Homo sapiens: one gene and its partner. The protein of the gene in region 1 interacts with the protein of each later gene in a pairwise test. Each region holds a gene or a part of one and is shown on either strand. Other genes may lie near its edges.

What was found. Proteins that work in one complex are often made in the same cells at the same time.
Region 2: the proteins of SMIM26 (region 1) and AGK interact in binary tests that used the Homo sapiens proteins (3 or more experiments, as listed by UniProt).

The regions. Positions count from the first base shown.
Region 1 is NC_000020.11:18,562,784-18,570,758, forward strand, and holds SMIM26 (small integral membrane protein 26), read left to right. Parts: upstream 1-4,648; 5' UTR 4,649-4,695; coding exon 4,696-4,813; intron 4,814-6,452; coding exon 6,453-6,622; 3' UTR 6,623-6,777; downstream 6,778-7,975. UniProt on the Homo sapiens protein: May play a role in cell viability.
Region 2 is NC_000007.14:141,637,935-141,645,831, forward strand, and holds part of AGK (acylglycerol kinase, mitochondrial isoform 1 precursor), read left to right. Parts: intron 1-3,313; coding exon 3,314-3,464; intron 3,465-3,876; coding exon 3,877-3,974; intron 3,975-7,897. UniProt on the Homo sapiens protein: Lipid kinase that can phosphorylate both monoacylglycerol and diacylglycerol to form lysophosphatidic acid (LPA) and phosphatidic acid (PA), respectively. Does not phosphorylate sphingosine. Phosphorylates ceramide.

The DNA.
Region 1 (7,975 bases):
ATGGCTTGAACCCAGGAGGCAGAGGTTGCAGTGAGCCGAGATCGCACCACTGCACTCCCTGGGGGACAGAGCGAGACTGTCTCAAAAAAAATTTTTTTAAAGTGTTACCTCCCCCACCTCTTCCTCTCGTTCTTGCCATGTGGTACATCGGGCTACCTCTTCACCTTCTGCCCTGATTGTAAGCTTCCTGAGGCCTTCACCAGAAGCAGATGCTGGCACCATGCGTCCTGTACAGCCTACAGAACCGTAAGCCATAAGCATAAACCGTAAACCTCTTTTTAAAATAAATTACCCAGTCTCGGGTGTTCCATTACAGAGATCCAAAGACAGACTAACCCACTGGGTCTAAAAAGTATAGGCCCAAGATAATCTCAGAACTTTGGAGTCATTCTTTCATTCGTTCAACAAATAACTATCCGGTACTTGTTGTCTATGGAGTAGTCTTCTAGGCATTGGGAATACTGCCAATAAAACAAAAATTCCTGTTTTCATAGAGCTTATGTGTTAGTTAGGGAAGACCAACAATAACAATGTTAGAAGTAAATGATATGGCCGGGCGTGGTGGCTCATGCCTGTAATCCCAGCACTTTGGGAGGCCGAAGTGGGCGGATCACCTGAGGTCAGGAGTTTGAGACCAGCCTGGCCAACATGGCGAAACCCTTTCTCTATTAAAAATACAAAAATTAGCCAGGCATGGTGGTGCACACCTGTAATCCCAGCTACTTGGGAGGCTGAGGCAGGGACAAATTGTTTGAACCCAGGAGATGGAGGTTGCAGTGAGATTGTGCCACTGCACTCCAGCCTGGGCAACAGAACGAGACTCCGTCTCAAAAAAATAAAAAACAAAAAAGAAATGAAGTAAATGATACATTAGAAGGTAATGAGTGCTATGTAGGAAAATGAAGCTGGAAGCTCCTATTAATTGGATGTTGGAACAGCTGGATTGATTGCAATACTCTGTTTTGAATTTGTATTCGAATACAAGTTATTGTATTTCTTTTTGTCTCTGCCCTACATTCTAGCAGAATTCTAGCAGAGTTTCCTATCTTAAAATGTTGAACATTGGCCAGGTGCGGTGGCTCACACCTGTAATCCTAGCACTTTGGGAGGCTGAGGTGGGCAGATCACTTGAGGTCAGGAGTTCAAAACCAGCCTGGCCAACATGGTGAAACCCCATCTCTACTAAAAATATTAAAAAATTAGCCAGGAGTGGTGGTGGGCACCTGTAATCCCAGCTACTTGGGAAGCTGAGGCAGGAGAATCACTTGAACCTCGGAGGTGGAGGTTGCAGTGAGCTGAGGTCACGCCACTATACTCCAGCCTGGGTGACAGAGGGAGACTTCATCTCAAAAAAAAAAAAAAAAAAAAAAGTTGAACATTTACATTTTTCTGTGCGTTTTCCAAGAATATTTTTAGTTTTGGATATAATTTTTAACACATCATATAGAAGAATACATAAAGTTGTCTGTACAGATTAAGGCCAAAACATCCTCTTTGGCTTTTCTGTTTCAAATTAACAGAAAAAAGACTGTGTGATAGACCCAGCTAACTCTGCGGTTCTCTCTAGTGTCAGTGAGTTAAGGAGCTGAGGGAACTGCATGGTATGACATGGCCATGCAGGTCCCACCTTAGGGTACCAGTGACGTTTTTCCACAGAATGTAGGGGGTGGCAGGGTGATAGTGCTGTGTGGAAAACAGCTATCATGAGAAGGGGCCACTGAGCCCAGTATGCCCAGTGAGGACTCTGAACTCCATCTTTTTATTAATTGTTAATTTTTGTGGGTATTGAACTCCATCTTGAAGGTAGGGCAAGCCTCTGACTTATCTTAGGCAGAGGGTGAAATGATAATTTAAGGTTTGAAAGACACTCCAGAGGGGGAAGGATGAGAGGAGACTGTAATCCAAGTGAGAAATGAGGCCTAAACAGAGACAGGGTATTTAGACAGAGGTGACAGAGGATGTCAGGTGAGATGATTCCAAGTTCCTGGCTTGGGCAATTTCTCAATCACTCTCTGAATCAGGGAAGAGAAAGGGAAGGTTTGTTTCCTGTTGGGAGTGGCATTGATAAATTCAATTCGGAACATTTTTTTAGTTTCAGGAGCTTGTGGAATATGCAGCCGAGGATGCATAGCAGGTTGGCAGTAACATGAATTTGCTTTCAGAGAATCTGGAGTAGATTTGAGAGTTATTAACATATAACATAGGTATCATGAGTAAGGCTGATGAGAAGGATGAGAAGAGACGCAAGCTTGAAACAATACCAATTTTTCTGTTTTGTCTATAACTATTGAGCTATAGTTCACATATAATAAACTGCACCCATTTAAAGCATACAATTGGATAAATCTTGACAGAAACCACCACAATAATCAACATACAGAACATTACCATCACCTCTCAAAGTCTCCTCAGACCCTTTTAGCCCTTCCCTCTCTCCATGCCCTTACTGCAGACAACTACTCATCAGCTTTCTCCCACTGGAGTTTGCTTCTAGAATTTCGTGACTGGTTTCTTTGGTGTCTAGCTTGCTTTTTCACTTAGCATAATCCATTTTGAGATTCATCGTATGGTTGTATTTATCAGTAGTTCTTTTTTTTTTTTTTTTTTTTTTTTTTTGAGAAGGAGTCTCACTCTGTCACCCAGGCTGGAGTGCAGTGGTGTAATCTCGGCTCACCACAACCTCCGCCTCCTGGATTCAAGTAATTCTCCTGTCTCAGCCTCTGGAATAGCTGGGATTACAGGCGCCCGCCACCATGCCCGGCTAATTTTTGTATTTTTAGTGGAGACGAGGTTTCACCATGTTGGCCAGGCTGGTCTCGATCTCCTGACTTGAGGTGACCCACCCATCTTGGCCTCCCAAAGTGCTGGGATTACAGGTGTGAGCCACCCGTACCCAGCCAGTAGTTCCTTTTTATTTGTAAGTGGTATCCCACGTTTTGTTTAGCCATTTACTCGATGGGTATTGGGGGTGGTTTCTATTTTTTCCTATTAAGAATAAAACTATGAACATTCATGTACATGGCTGTGTGCAGACACAGGTTTTCATTTCTCATGGATAACTAGAAACGGAATGCCTGGGTTATATGGTAGGCATATGTTCAACTTTTTAAAAACTAAGTTTTGCAAAGAGATTGTAACATTTTATGTTCCCATCAATAACAGTTCCAATTATTCCAAATCCTTACAGCTCTTGGCATTCTCAATCTGATTTTAGCCATTCTAGTAGGTGTGTAATGGTCTCTTATTGTATTCTTTTAATGTCCATTTCTGTGATGACTAATGATGCTACTGTGCTTATTGGTCATTTGTATATCTTCTTTCGTTCTATTCAAATTTATTGCCTGGTTTTTAGTTGGGCTGTATTTTTATAACTGAGTTGTAAAGCGTCCTCATATATTCTGGATCCAAGTCCTTTTGTTAGATATATGTTATTATGAATATTTTATTCTGTGGCTTGGCTTTTCATTTTCTCAACTGTGACCTTCAAAGAGCAAAAATTTTAATTTTTTTTTAAAAGCCCTATTTATCCATTTTCGCTTTATGCATATATATATAAAATGAGATGGGGTCTCACTATGTTGGCCTTGCTGGTCTGGAACTCTTGGGTTCAAGCAATCCTCCCTGCTCTACCTCCCAAAGTGCTGGGGTTACAGGCATGAGCCACCCCGCTTGGGATGCCTTTTTTATTCTAAGAATTCTGTGCTTATTCCAAGATGGCAAACATATTCTCCTGGTTTTTTTCTAGGCTTATATTAAATAGTTTTAGCTTTTACATTTAAGTCAGCGATCCATTCAGAGTTAAGTTTTTTATCTATTTCTGTAGGGCAGAACATCAGTTTTTAAAGGGTGGGCAAGGTGAAAAGAACCCTGAAGGATACCAGGGAAAATGATGTTTCTGAAGCCATGAAAGGTGCAGGTGGGGTCAGTGGTGGCAAATGCTTTCGAAACCAAGTTTGAGTGTGGCTGAAAAGTACTTAACGTTAATTTACCGGGCCTACCTTGTGCCAAGCACATCACACTTGCTCTTAAGTTGTTCAGTCTATTGAGGGCATCTTGCTTTAAAAAATGTATGCATAAGACAAAAGCTGGAGGTGGTCGGAGTCGAAGGAGATTTTTTGTTTTTGAGACATGGGCACGTTTGTATGAAGGATAAACGTCAATAATGAAGATGGGGGAGGACTTAGGGTGTCAATGAGGGGAAAGGCCACTGAGGCTGGAAAAAATAGTACCCAGAGCCTAGTGGAGGGATTAGCTTTGGCCTGGAAGTATTTAAAGTTCACCCAGAGTTCCGGAAAGAAAAATGGAGGAAAAGAAGAGTTGCGGGGAGAGACAAGCGGTATCCCTGCAAATCTGAAAACTGGAAGAGGAATTGGAAGTAACCTTTTCGGATACCGTCTGGAGCCCACGAAGGCATTACAATTTTGCAAGTGAGAAGCTTCTCCTCTAAGTTGTCATTTAGTCCTCGTCACGTGGTAAAAAGTATCGCACGCCCACAGTTCTACACCCGAAAGTCCGGACACCTGAGCGACTTTCCGGGCCAGAGGCCCCAAGGTGCATCGGGGCAGAGCCGGAAGCGGACGCTGAAAACTGGCGGCTCCTTAATGGTTCCGGCGGCAGGGACCGCAGCGACGCCCTCACCGGAAGTCCCGCCTCTGCCGTGGGCCTGCGAGAATCGAGGCACTCGCTGGCGTACCCATGTATCGAAATGAGTTCACGGCCTGGTACCGGCGGATGTCGGTGGTCTACGGGATCGGCACCTGGTCTGTGTTGGGCTCACTGCTTTACTATAGCCGGACAATGGCGAAGTCGTCAGGTAGGGCTCTTCGGCGGGGCCTGCCCCGGAACACACGGCCTTCGATGAGAGTTCCCCGGGGGTCATGGAAACAACTTCCCTGTCCTTTAAATCCCAGGTTTATTCTGCAAAACTAATTGAAACGGGTGCTAACAGCCGTTTGTTATAATGGAATCTGCAAAGAACTAGACTCCAGGAATTATTAATACCTTGTAAATATTGTTTCCTAAATCTGAATCATTTACTGGATAGGGCCGTCCCCATATTCAGAATTGGAGGAATCTGTGTAAAGTGCAAGGTGGACTTTCAGAGACTCTGGCCGGTGATTTTTAAAGAGTGATGCTTCAGTACTACTGTCCCTCATCGTATATGGCGAGCAATTTCAGTACTTTTAGCAGCCAAGGCGTATTAAAATCTTCCAGTTACTAAGCGCAAAGGGAGAAAAGTCTCTCAGCTTTGAAAAATATGCTGGAAATCTGTAGAGACATTAAGTTGATTAGTGTGGTTGCTAGGGGCTGAGGGGTTGGGGAGTTGGGGAATGACTGCCAAAGGTATGGATTCCTTTTGTGGATGAAAGTATTTTTAAATTGATTGTGGTGCTGGTTGCACAAATCTGAATATACTAAAAACATTAAATTGTATATTTTAAGTGGGTTAATCGTATATGTTAATTATATCTCAGTAAAGTTGTTGTGTAAAAACTATGCTGAAGATTACATTTGGTGATGAAGCTGTCAGTGGCCTGAAAGTACATGTGTCCAGCATTAAGCATTTAAAAACATTTTGGCCGGGTGCAGTGGCTCACGCCTGTAATCCCATAACTTTGGGAGGCCGAGGTGGGAGATTGCTTGAGCCCAGGGGTTCGGGACCAGCCTGGGCAACATGGGGAGACCCCCATCTCTACCAAAAGAAAAAGAAATTTTTATATATAATATTTTATATTTACTTTATATGTAATATATGGTAAAAATACTTTACATTTATATATAAAGTAAAAATATTTTAATGTCCATATTTATGTTTTCTTTCTTTCGTTCTTTTTTTTTTTCTTTTTGACAAGGTCTCACCCTGTCGCCCAGGCTTGAGTGCAGTGGCATGATCTCGGCTCACCACAACCTGCGTCTCCGGGCTCAAGTGATTCTCCTGCCTCAGCCTCCCGAGTAGCTGGGATTGCAGGCGCAGGCCACTGCTGCCCGGCGAATTGTTTTATTTTTTTTTTGAGACAGAGTCTAGCTCTGTCGCCCAGGCTGGAGTGCACTGGCGCTATCTTGGCTCACTGTAACCTCCATCTCCCAACTCAAGCAGTCCTCCTGCCTCATCCTCCCCAGTAGCTGGGGTTATAGGCCCATGCCACCACGCCCAGCTAATTTTTGTATTTTTAGTAGAGATGGGGTTTCACTACGTTGGCGAGGCTGGTCTCAAACACCTGACCTCAGGTGGTCCACCTGCCTCGGCCCCCACAAAGTGAGATTGGGATTACAGGCGTGAGCCACCGCACCCAGCTTTTCTTTTCCCTTCCTTTTCATTCCTTCCTTCATTATTGGGGTTGGAGAGAGTGGATGTAATTCTTACCTTAGTTAATTTCTAAGACTTTAATGACTGCTTTCTAAGTTAATAATTCAGGTGTTCTTTTTTTTTTTTTCTCTTAATGGTGATAAAGTAGACCAAAAGGATGGCTCAGCAAGTGAAGTACCCAGTGAACTCTCTGAACGCCCAAAAGGATTTTATGTGGAAACAGTTGTCACATATAAAGAAGATTTTGTTCCAAATACAGAAAAGATCCTCAACTATTGGAAATCATGGACTGGTGGCCCTGGTACAGAACCATGACTGGCTGCTGAATTCTGAAAACCAGGACTTGGTTCAACATTTAAATTTGATAGTTGCCCTGATTCCCATTTTGGGTTTGTGAAAAGTGTATGTATTTAAATTTGCTGTAAAACATAATCACTAATAATATGCAATAAATATTTTCTTGAAGGAAACTATCTGCGTTTTCTTTTTTTTTTTTTTTTTTGAGACGGAGTCTTGCTGTGTCACCCAGGCTGGAGTGCAGTGGCTCGATCTCGGCTCACTGCAAGCTCCGCCTCCCAGGTTCATGCCATTCTCCTGCCTCAGCCTCCCGAGTAGCTGGGACTAAAGGCGCCTGCCACCATGTCTGGCTAATTTTTTGTGTTTTCAGTGGAGACAGGGTTTCACCGTGTTAGCCAGGATGGTCTCCATCTCCTGACCTTGTGATCCGCCTGCCTCAGCCTCCCAAAGTGCTGGGATTACAGGTGTGAGCCACGGTCCCCGGCCTACTATCTGCATTTTCAAGAGGTGTTCCTCTGTATTTGCATGAGTGAAAGATTGCTGTGAAATTTCACATAGAGCTTCCATAAGCTTGATTTCCTGAAACTAGTTAATGTAGATTTATATTTCTTTCATGTTGCTATTAGGCACAGCTTTAGTGGTCGCTTTAAGGTTAGTTTCAGCAAATCTCCATATTCACTTTGGGATTCACAGTAGCCCTTTGGGTACTACTGCGTACTGGGTAAGTATGATATAAATTTGATTGTAACTTCTGAATTAAACAGACTGGACCTATTCTTTAGGACCAGTGCACATACCCCTCATTCCTTCAGCAAGTGTGGATTACCCACCAACTGTGGCCAGTGCTATTCTAATGCTGGGAATGCAGTCAGGACGACATGATTGATGCTGAACCAGTTTCCTCAGTGGTCTCTTGGTTGCAGGCAACAAACACAAGTGAGCTTAAATCAAAAGTGGGTGTTTATAAAAAACGTGTATTGGTAGCTCAGAATTAAAGCAGAGAGTATGGGCCAGGAGCGGTGGCTCACGCCTGTACTCCCTGCACTTTGGGAGGCCGAGGGGCGGATCACAAGGTCAAGAGATCGAGACCGTCTTGGCCAGCATGGTGAAACCCTGTCTCTATTAAAAATACAAAAATTAGCTGGGCATGGCACCGCGCACCTGTAGTCCCAGCTACTTGGGAGGCTGAGGCAGGAGAATCGCTTGAATCTGGGAGGCGGAGGTTGCAGTGAGCTGAGATCGCACCACTGCACTCCAGCCTGTTGACAGCGAGATTCCATCTCAAAAAAAAAAAAAAAAAGCAGTATGTTGTCTTCAGAAGGCCTGACACTGGGACCAGAATGCAGGCAGCCACTTGTTGAGCCTGCCTGG
Region 2 (7,897 bases), on another chromosome or scaffold:
GTCTTTATATACCAAGGGCAAACTGGATTAGTAAAATCGGTTATTCCTCGAGTTTCATTGGTGGAGTTGTGAGTGCATTTAGGAAGAAATAGAGTAGCTACATATTTAAATGGAATATAAACTGTTGCCACTATTTATTCAGCAAACAATAGTTGACATATGCTTGGGATACAAAGTCAAATGAGACAGGTTTCCTGCCCTCAAGAAGTATTCAGATGCTGGGAGGGAAGTGTAAGTAAATCAGCAGTTTGGCAAGTGCTGTGAGAGAAAGATAGAAAGATTAAGAAGGGAGCAGAGAGGAGGGGCATCTAAATCTAATGAGGGTCAGAAAATCTTCCCAGCAGAGGAGACACACTAAATTTTGAAACATTTAAAGGCTGTGTGAAGTCACAGTGGTGTGACATGGCCCTTAATTATGATTAATGCAGTAAAATGGCAGGAAGTGAAGCCAGTGGGTTAGGTAAGGGCAGGTTATGGCGGGTTTTGATGTGCAATTTGACTTTTATCCTTAAAGCAATGGGGAGTTATTGAGTCTTGAGCAGAGGCATGAAATGAGCAGATTTGCATTTTAGAAAAATTGTTTTTTTCTAAACAGAAAAACAGATAGGATGTAGGTAGCTCAAGGCAAGGACATTAGATAGAAGGTTGTTAAAGTAGTCAGGTGGGAAGTGACGTATAGACTAAGGAGGTAACAGTATTGACAATAGAAGATGGATTAAAGAACTCTTAAGTTAGAACCTCAAAAGTCAGAAGAATGTAGGATTATCAGATTTCTGGTATGAGGGACTAGAGTTTGGTAACTGGAGTTTTCCACTGATGTTGGTAATACTAGAGTAAATCAAGTTTGTGAAGAGAGATGAAATTTTCAGTTTAATCTATGTAGAGTTTAACATACCTGTGGTACAGACAAGCAAAGATACAATTGTGATTTAGGTCGGAATTCAGCAGAGAGGTCTGGACTAAAGAAACAGATTCAAATGTCATAAGTGTGTGAGCGGTGTTGAAACCATGGGTTGGGTGAAATTACCATTGAGTACAGATGGCCAGGAATATCCCTAAGGGACATAAACATTTAAAGAACCACCAAAAATGACTGAGAAGTGCTAAGAGAAAATGCAGGAGAGAATACTAACATAGAAGCCAATAGAAGAGAGAATTTCAAGAAAAAAGTAAGAGTTTCGAGAAGCAAAAGCAAAGACTTTAAATATACAGACAAGAGAGTATCCATCGAATTTGGCAGCCTCCAAAAGCTGGGCAGCCTCCAAAGTGTGGTGGCTGAAGCCAGACTGAAGAAAGTCAAGAAATAAAAGTGATGTAAAGAAGTGGAGACAGCAAGGACACGCTACTCCTTCAAGAAACCTGACTTTGAAGAGAAGGAGATAGGGAAGGCAAAAGCTGAGAGAAACATGGGGTCAATATGGAATTTTTAAAAGTGGAGAATATCCATGTGTTTCTAGACTGAAGAAAAAGAAAAGAATGTGAGGAGGTGAGAAGGGAGACAGAAAGCATGACTGAATTGGCAAAATCCAAGAGCGGGTAGAAGGGCGTGGGATCCAGAGTACTGGATTGTCCCTGGACAGGACAAGGGGCACCTTTTTTCATTGATACAGAAGAGGAGTAAAGGGTAGGTCCAGATGAAAATGAGATTAGAGAAAGTTAAGGTATTCTCACTGATGTCCCTGATATTCTCACTGAAGTGTAGGAAGCAAAGTGATCCTGTCAGAAAGGTGGTGAGTAGTGGTATGGGGTATCCTGAAGAAAGATGAATGTAGGAGGAGGCTTAGGATTATCAAGTAGCACTGAAGACCTGAGGCTAACAATTTGTAGACATGAATGCTCCTTTGGGTGACTGCTTTTCCCTGTATTAATACTCAGCAGGAGTATCATTTTCTTCTCTAGTAATACTGAGCCATGATGTAAGAGTACAGGAACTTAATGACAAGGCTGATCCAGAACTGGGGCTTTTTAGGACATATTGTAGAAGAATAAAGACACAGGAAAGCCAAGAGTAAGTGGAAAAAGAAAGCACTTGAAAGTAATTGACTATCAGTTTGGCACTGAGGGGAAAATGAGTGGTCAGGGAGTAGAATCCTCAATGTGATTGAAAACTTGGTGCAGTTAGGTCTTCAGGGGCCCACAATAAAACCCCTCTCTTCCTCTTTTTAGTTTGAACCAAGGTATGAAAACAAATGCAGGAACTAGGCAGATGAAGATCAAAACGTCATCTTTATAAATGTCAGCAGGAGTGGAGGACAGAGCACAGATACGTGGTCTCTATCTGATCTCCTAATACTGTGAACAAAGGTGTCCATTGAAACAGCTCCTTCAGGGCAGAGACCACCACAAGAAGCTAATTTTCACCACATGAAAATTAGAAGCAGTGACCGTTTGAGACAAGGACAGCTGCTGTCAGAGAGAAAGGAAAGGGCTGGATCCATGCATTGGTCCTTCTAGACTTGGGGAGGAGTGAGTAAGCAGTGGAGTGAGAGAAGCCAGTGTTGCTACTGCTTTGTAATTCACCACCTGGAAACTTGAGAACAGGGAAGCATTTCACCCTAAGAGACACAATGGGCACAAAAGAATCAACCAGAAGAATATGGGATGTGATTAGAGAGCAGGATCTCAGGGTTTTAGATTTCCAAAGTGGAATAGTTCTGGGTGACATTAGGGGCCAGGATGTGGCCATGGAAATGGGTGGATGTGGTGAATCAGAGGTGATGTCAAGGGCTGAGAGGCTGGGGTATGGTTTTATTCATTCATGCGGTCAGGATGTGATCCAGGGTGACACTGGACTTGGGATGCCAGGACATAGAAGACAAAAAAAATTAGAGTGTGAGGGTGATGGGCTTTGAAGCAGAAGTGAGAAGCCTTGGGCTGGATTGTGAGCCTGGGCTAAACCATTCTGGCCTGTGTGTGGAATAAGATTCCAGAAGTGAGGTAGGTACTTGATGCAACTGGATTTCCTCAGTTTCATTTTGCATCACCATCTGTAAGCCAAAGATAAATTTATTACGGATGACCCTATGTTCATTCACCCTCTTTTTGGACAAATGTAAATGGTGGTGGTTAGCCAATTTTAGGGGGAGCAATGGAGGCAGTACTTGCTGAATTCATGGTTTTTAAGATGTAGCTTTAAGAGGAAAAGAAAGCTTGAGGATTCCATGCTCCAAACTAGCATTCCATCCAGTGAGAGGAGATTATTAGTTCACTTTCTAGCAGGTATAGGTAGACAAATAAATAACTTTTGCAGAGAGAAACTCCCAGAGTGGAATTGTACATGCATAACAAAATTTTTCTCTCTCCACATTAAAAGGAGTGGCCTCAGACTCATCAAGCCTCTATCTCATACACGGGACCTACAGAGAGACCTCCCAATGAACCAGAGGAGACCCCTGTACAAAGGCCTTCTTTGTACAGGAGAATATTACGAAGGCTTGCGTCCTACTGGGCACAACCACAGGATGGTGAGCAATGTGGCGACTAAAGATTGGAGGGCCCTGGTCAGTTTAGAAGTGCCCTAAAGTAGACCTCCAAAATCAGTTTTAGAGACTTAACTAGAGCAGGAGAAGCCTCTCAGGGATCACTGAATTCATCCTTCTGTGTGCCACCAGAGCAGGCCCAAGCAATGTGCCATCAATGGGCATAGCAGTCTCTGTGCACAGTCTTTCTGTTAACGTGACTGCTTTTGGTAGTGATGTTTTAGGCACAGAGATGCCATTTTTACCTCTATGTATAAGAAGCATGAAATAAATAAAATGAAGGCAGAGTCAGCAGAAAGGTTGAGAAGCTGAGCTGAGCAGCTAGCAGCTAGCCGTCCGTGGTGGGTGGTGAAATGTTAATGGAAGAAACTGACCTGTATCTAATGGATTCCCACAGCCCTTTCCCAAGAGGTGAGCCCGGAGGTCTGGAAAGATGTGCAGCTGTCCACCATTGAACTGTCCATCACAACACGGAATAATCAGCTTGACCCGACAGTAAGTGTGCTTTTTTATTAGAAAAGCATTTGGTACCTAAGAAAAGTGACAATAGCTATAGTCCTCTCCCACTAATTCAGTTATTTTTATTTTTACCCTGTGGAGATAGAGAGGGCAGTGTCAGGAGAAAGAGGATGTGGTGTGCCTTTAAGGAATAACAGCAATGAGGAGAAGCTGCCACCTGCAGGAGTGGCATAAATGCTTCTGGGGCTCTGATTACATGTTCTGCTCATTGCTTAATTGGCATTCAGAGAACTTAGGGCAAGAGGGCTTTAGAAATGAAAATTAGCTATTCCCATTTGTCACTGGAAAAAAATTGTGGAACTTTTAGTTGAGTAAATATCCACGATTTTTGTGACTGTACTAAATATGTCAAATTAGATCCTCAGGAGAAAAATACCCACACACATACATCTGTATCTATATCTACATATTATTTATTTAGGCCCAATCTATAGGTATGCACTATCCCATACGGTAGCTATTAGCCACATGTGGCTAGTTAAATTTAAATTAATTAGAATTAAATAAAATTCAAAACTTAGTTCCTAAGTCACACTCACCACATTTCAAGTGCTCAACAGCCATATGTAGCTAGTAGCCATCATACTGGAAAGCACAGGTATACAGCCTGTCCGTCAGTGCAGAAGGTTCTGTTGGGTGGTGCTACTATAGACAACACACCCAAAAGTATTGAAATAAAGCAGGCATTGGCAAACTGGTCTGCCACCTGTTTTTATATAGCCCAGAAGCCAAGAATCTTCTAATTTTAAATGATGCAAAGAAAATCAAAAGAATAATTTTTGTGAACAGAAAAATACGTAAAGTTCAAGTTTCAGTATCCATAAATAAAGTTTTATTGGAGCACAGCCATATTCATTCACAAATATATTGTCTGTGGCTGCCTTTGTGCTACAGGGGAGAGCTGAGTAGTTGTGACAGATTGTATGGCCCAAAGCCTAAAATGTTTATTATCTGGTCACTTACAGAAAAAGTTTACTGACCCTAGTATAGAGAAAACCTTGGTAATTTATATCAATGAGAATGCCAATAGGAAAGTAATTGTTAACTGTGGACTAATTACATTCAGCTTGTATGCAAATTAGTCTGTTCACAGTTGTCTAGGCCAGTCTGAAAATTAGCAGATGGAGTTGGAATGTCGTGAAAAGTTTGATTCCAATATTAATAGAGTGATAAGTTTGATTCTAATATTAATGTTCAGAGTATTGAGATGTTTTCTAACTATGAAAATAATACATGTCCATTGCAAAACATTTGGAAAACATAGCTCCCTTCACCCTATAAAAAAAATTCTAGTTTGATTAAAGAACTAAATGTAAAATAATAAAATCATTAAAGTAGTAGGGTAAATGGCACACGTTTATACCTATGTAACAAGGCTGCGCCTCCTGTGTATGTATCCCGGAACTTAAAATAGAAGTTTGAAGTTAAAAAAAAGTATTAGGGTAAAATCTAAGTGATTATCAGTATAAAATTAAGGAGGACAAGGCCTCTCTAAGCATGACATTTAAGGCAAAAATCATATTGATGCATTTGTCTTTTTATTTAAAAAGACATTCTAAACAAACTTTTAAATGACATATTGGGAAAAATATTAGCATGTGATAGACCAGGAATTCACTTTCCTTTTAACAAGCTCTTAGGATAAAGCAATGAGAAATGGGCAAAGGACTAATATAAAAAGTGAGCAAGGGGTAAGAATAGAAAATTCATAAAAGAAATAAGCATATGAAAAAATAGCTTATATTTGCTGATTATTTACTACATGTGAGGCACCTGTCCTAAGAATTTTACATAATATTATGTAATCCTTATAGGTAGATATCTTTATCTGCATTTTGTAGGTAAGGAGACAGAGTGATTTCAGCAAAGAAATGCAAATTAAAATAGTAAGATTGAATTGTCATGACTAAAAAGCATGTTATAGATTAAAAGCTTAGTGGTGGTGTGTGTTTCTGATGGGAATATAGATTGGAACATCCTGTCTCAGCAATTTGGCATAGTATACATAAAGTGTCTAAAATATATGCATACCTTCTGCCCTATTAACTGTATTTCTAGGAATTTATCCTACTGGAATAACCTGATGAATATATAATGTAGGCAGTCCTTTTTTACATAATGGAAATCTGAAAAACACTGGTGAAAGTGGATATGTGAATGCTAAAAAAAAAAAAATAGATTCTGTTCCAGAGGAATTTAAAAGAGAAAGATAAAATGTCTAATTATACATCTCCTTTATACCAAGTCTTTAATAATATGTATTCCGAGTATTTTATTCATGTTCTTTACCATTGTTCTTTTCTCTGATGACTGAGTACCACTGAATGGATTGAGTTCAGTGAGTATGTGAGTGCGCTCAAGATTAGCCACACTCACAATGCCAAGTGCTTTTTATCTTTGTGCCTATTTAAAAGTATACGATACTGTGCCGCTTATCACTAGTAGCAGCAAATTCATTTGTTTCGTTTTTGCACAGTTCTTTATAAAAATAAAAGCAAATGCAATACAATAAAGGCAGTGTAGCTGCCGTGTAATAGCTCAAAATGTTCACTTATTAAAAGCAGCACATTCAGTGTATGAAAGAAGCTGTAGGAGTATAGAATGTGTGAAAATTAGGATCTCTTATACAACTATGCTCACTGTATAATAGTAAAATATTTGCAATGAACTAATCAGACTGAATAAATTTTGGTACATTTATTAAAAGTCATATCTATTTTATATATGTATTATTTTCTATCTATTGACATGGGAAAAATAGGTGAAAAGATTTGCAACATAGTTCCATTTTTCTTTAAAAAGGAAATACCCCCACTTATAAGTGAGTTTTGTGAATGATGGAGGTAAAGCTCCAATTTTATGTTCTTTCCAAATAGAAAGCCAGTTGTCCAAGCGCCATTTATTGAAATCTCCATTTTCCCCCATTGATCTTCAATAAACCTCTGCCATACATCATGTCTATATACATGTAAATGTTTCTAGTCTCTTTCTTCTATTGTTGTTCCATTTTCTCATATTTATACTAATACTCTGCTTCTCTTATTATAGTTTTATAATAAGTTCTATGTTTTTCTCTTTTTACACAGTCTCTTGGCTATTCTTAGCTCATTTGAGTTCTATAAATATTTTAGAATGTTTATTTTATTAAATTCCACATAAAAATGTTATAATATTGATCTCACTGCATTGTACCCATAGATCAATTTGGAGAGAAATGACATTTCTACAATATTGACTCCTCTAGCATATGAACGGGGTATATCTCTTCATTTATTTAGGTCTTCAATGTCTTTCAATGAAGTTTTATAGTTTTCTCTGGAATATCCTGTCTTTTGCTGGATATATTCCCAGTTATCTTAATTTTTATGCTATTCTAAATAATATCTATTAAAATTTCATTTTCTACCTGATTTAGTAGATGGACATATAATTGATTTTTATATCAATGCTGAATCAGCAACCTAATTAAATTATTATTAATTATTCTAACTTTCTTTCAATGAATTCTTTCAAATTTTCTACAGATTTAGTCATGGCCAATGCAAATAGTGCAAGGTTTGTTTTCTCTCTTCAAATACTTATCCTTACAATCCTTCATTTTACTTAGAGCACTGGATAGGACCTCAGTACATGGTTAAATAGAAGTAGCAGTAACAGGAGTCCCCATCGTCTTTCTTATTTCTGATTTAGAGAGAAAGTCTTCATTGCTTCATGCTTGTATTTAATGTGCTTTCTTTTTTTATAGACACCCTTTATCAGATTAAGGCAGTTCCTTTCTATTCCCAGTTTGCTAAGCATTTTTATCTTTCATGTTAAATATCTTAGATATTTAATTTTATCAAGTACTCTTCCAGCATCTATTGAGATAATAAAGTTTCCTCATTTAATCTGTCAAAGCA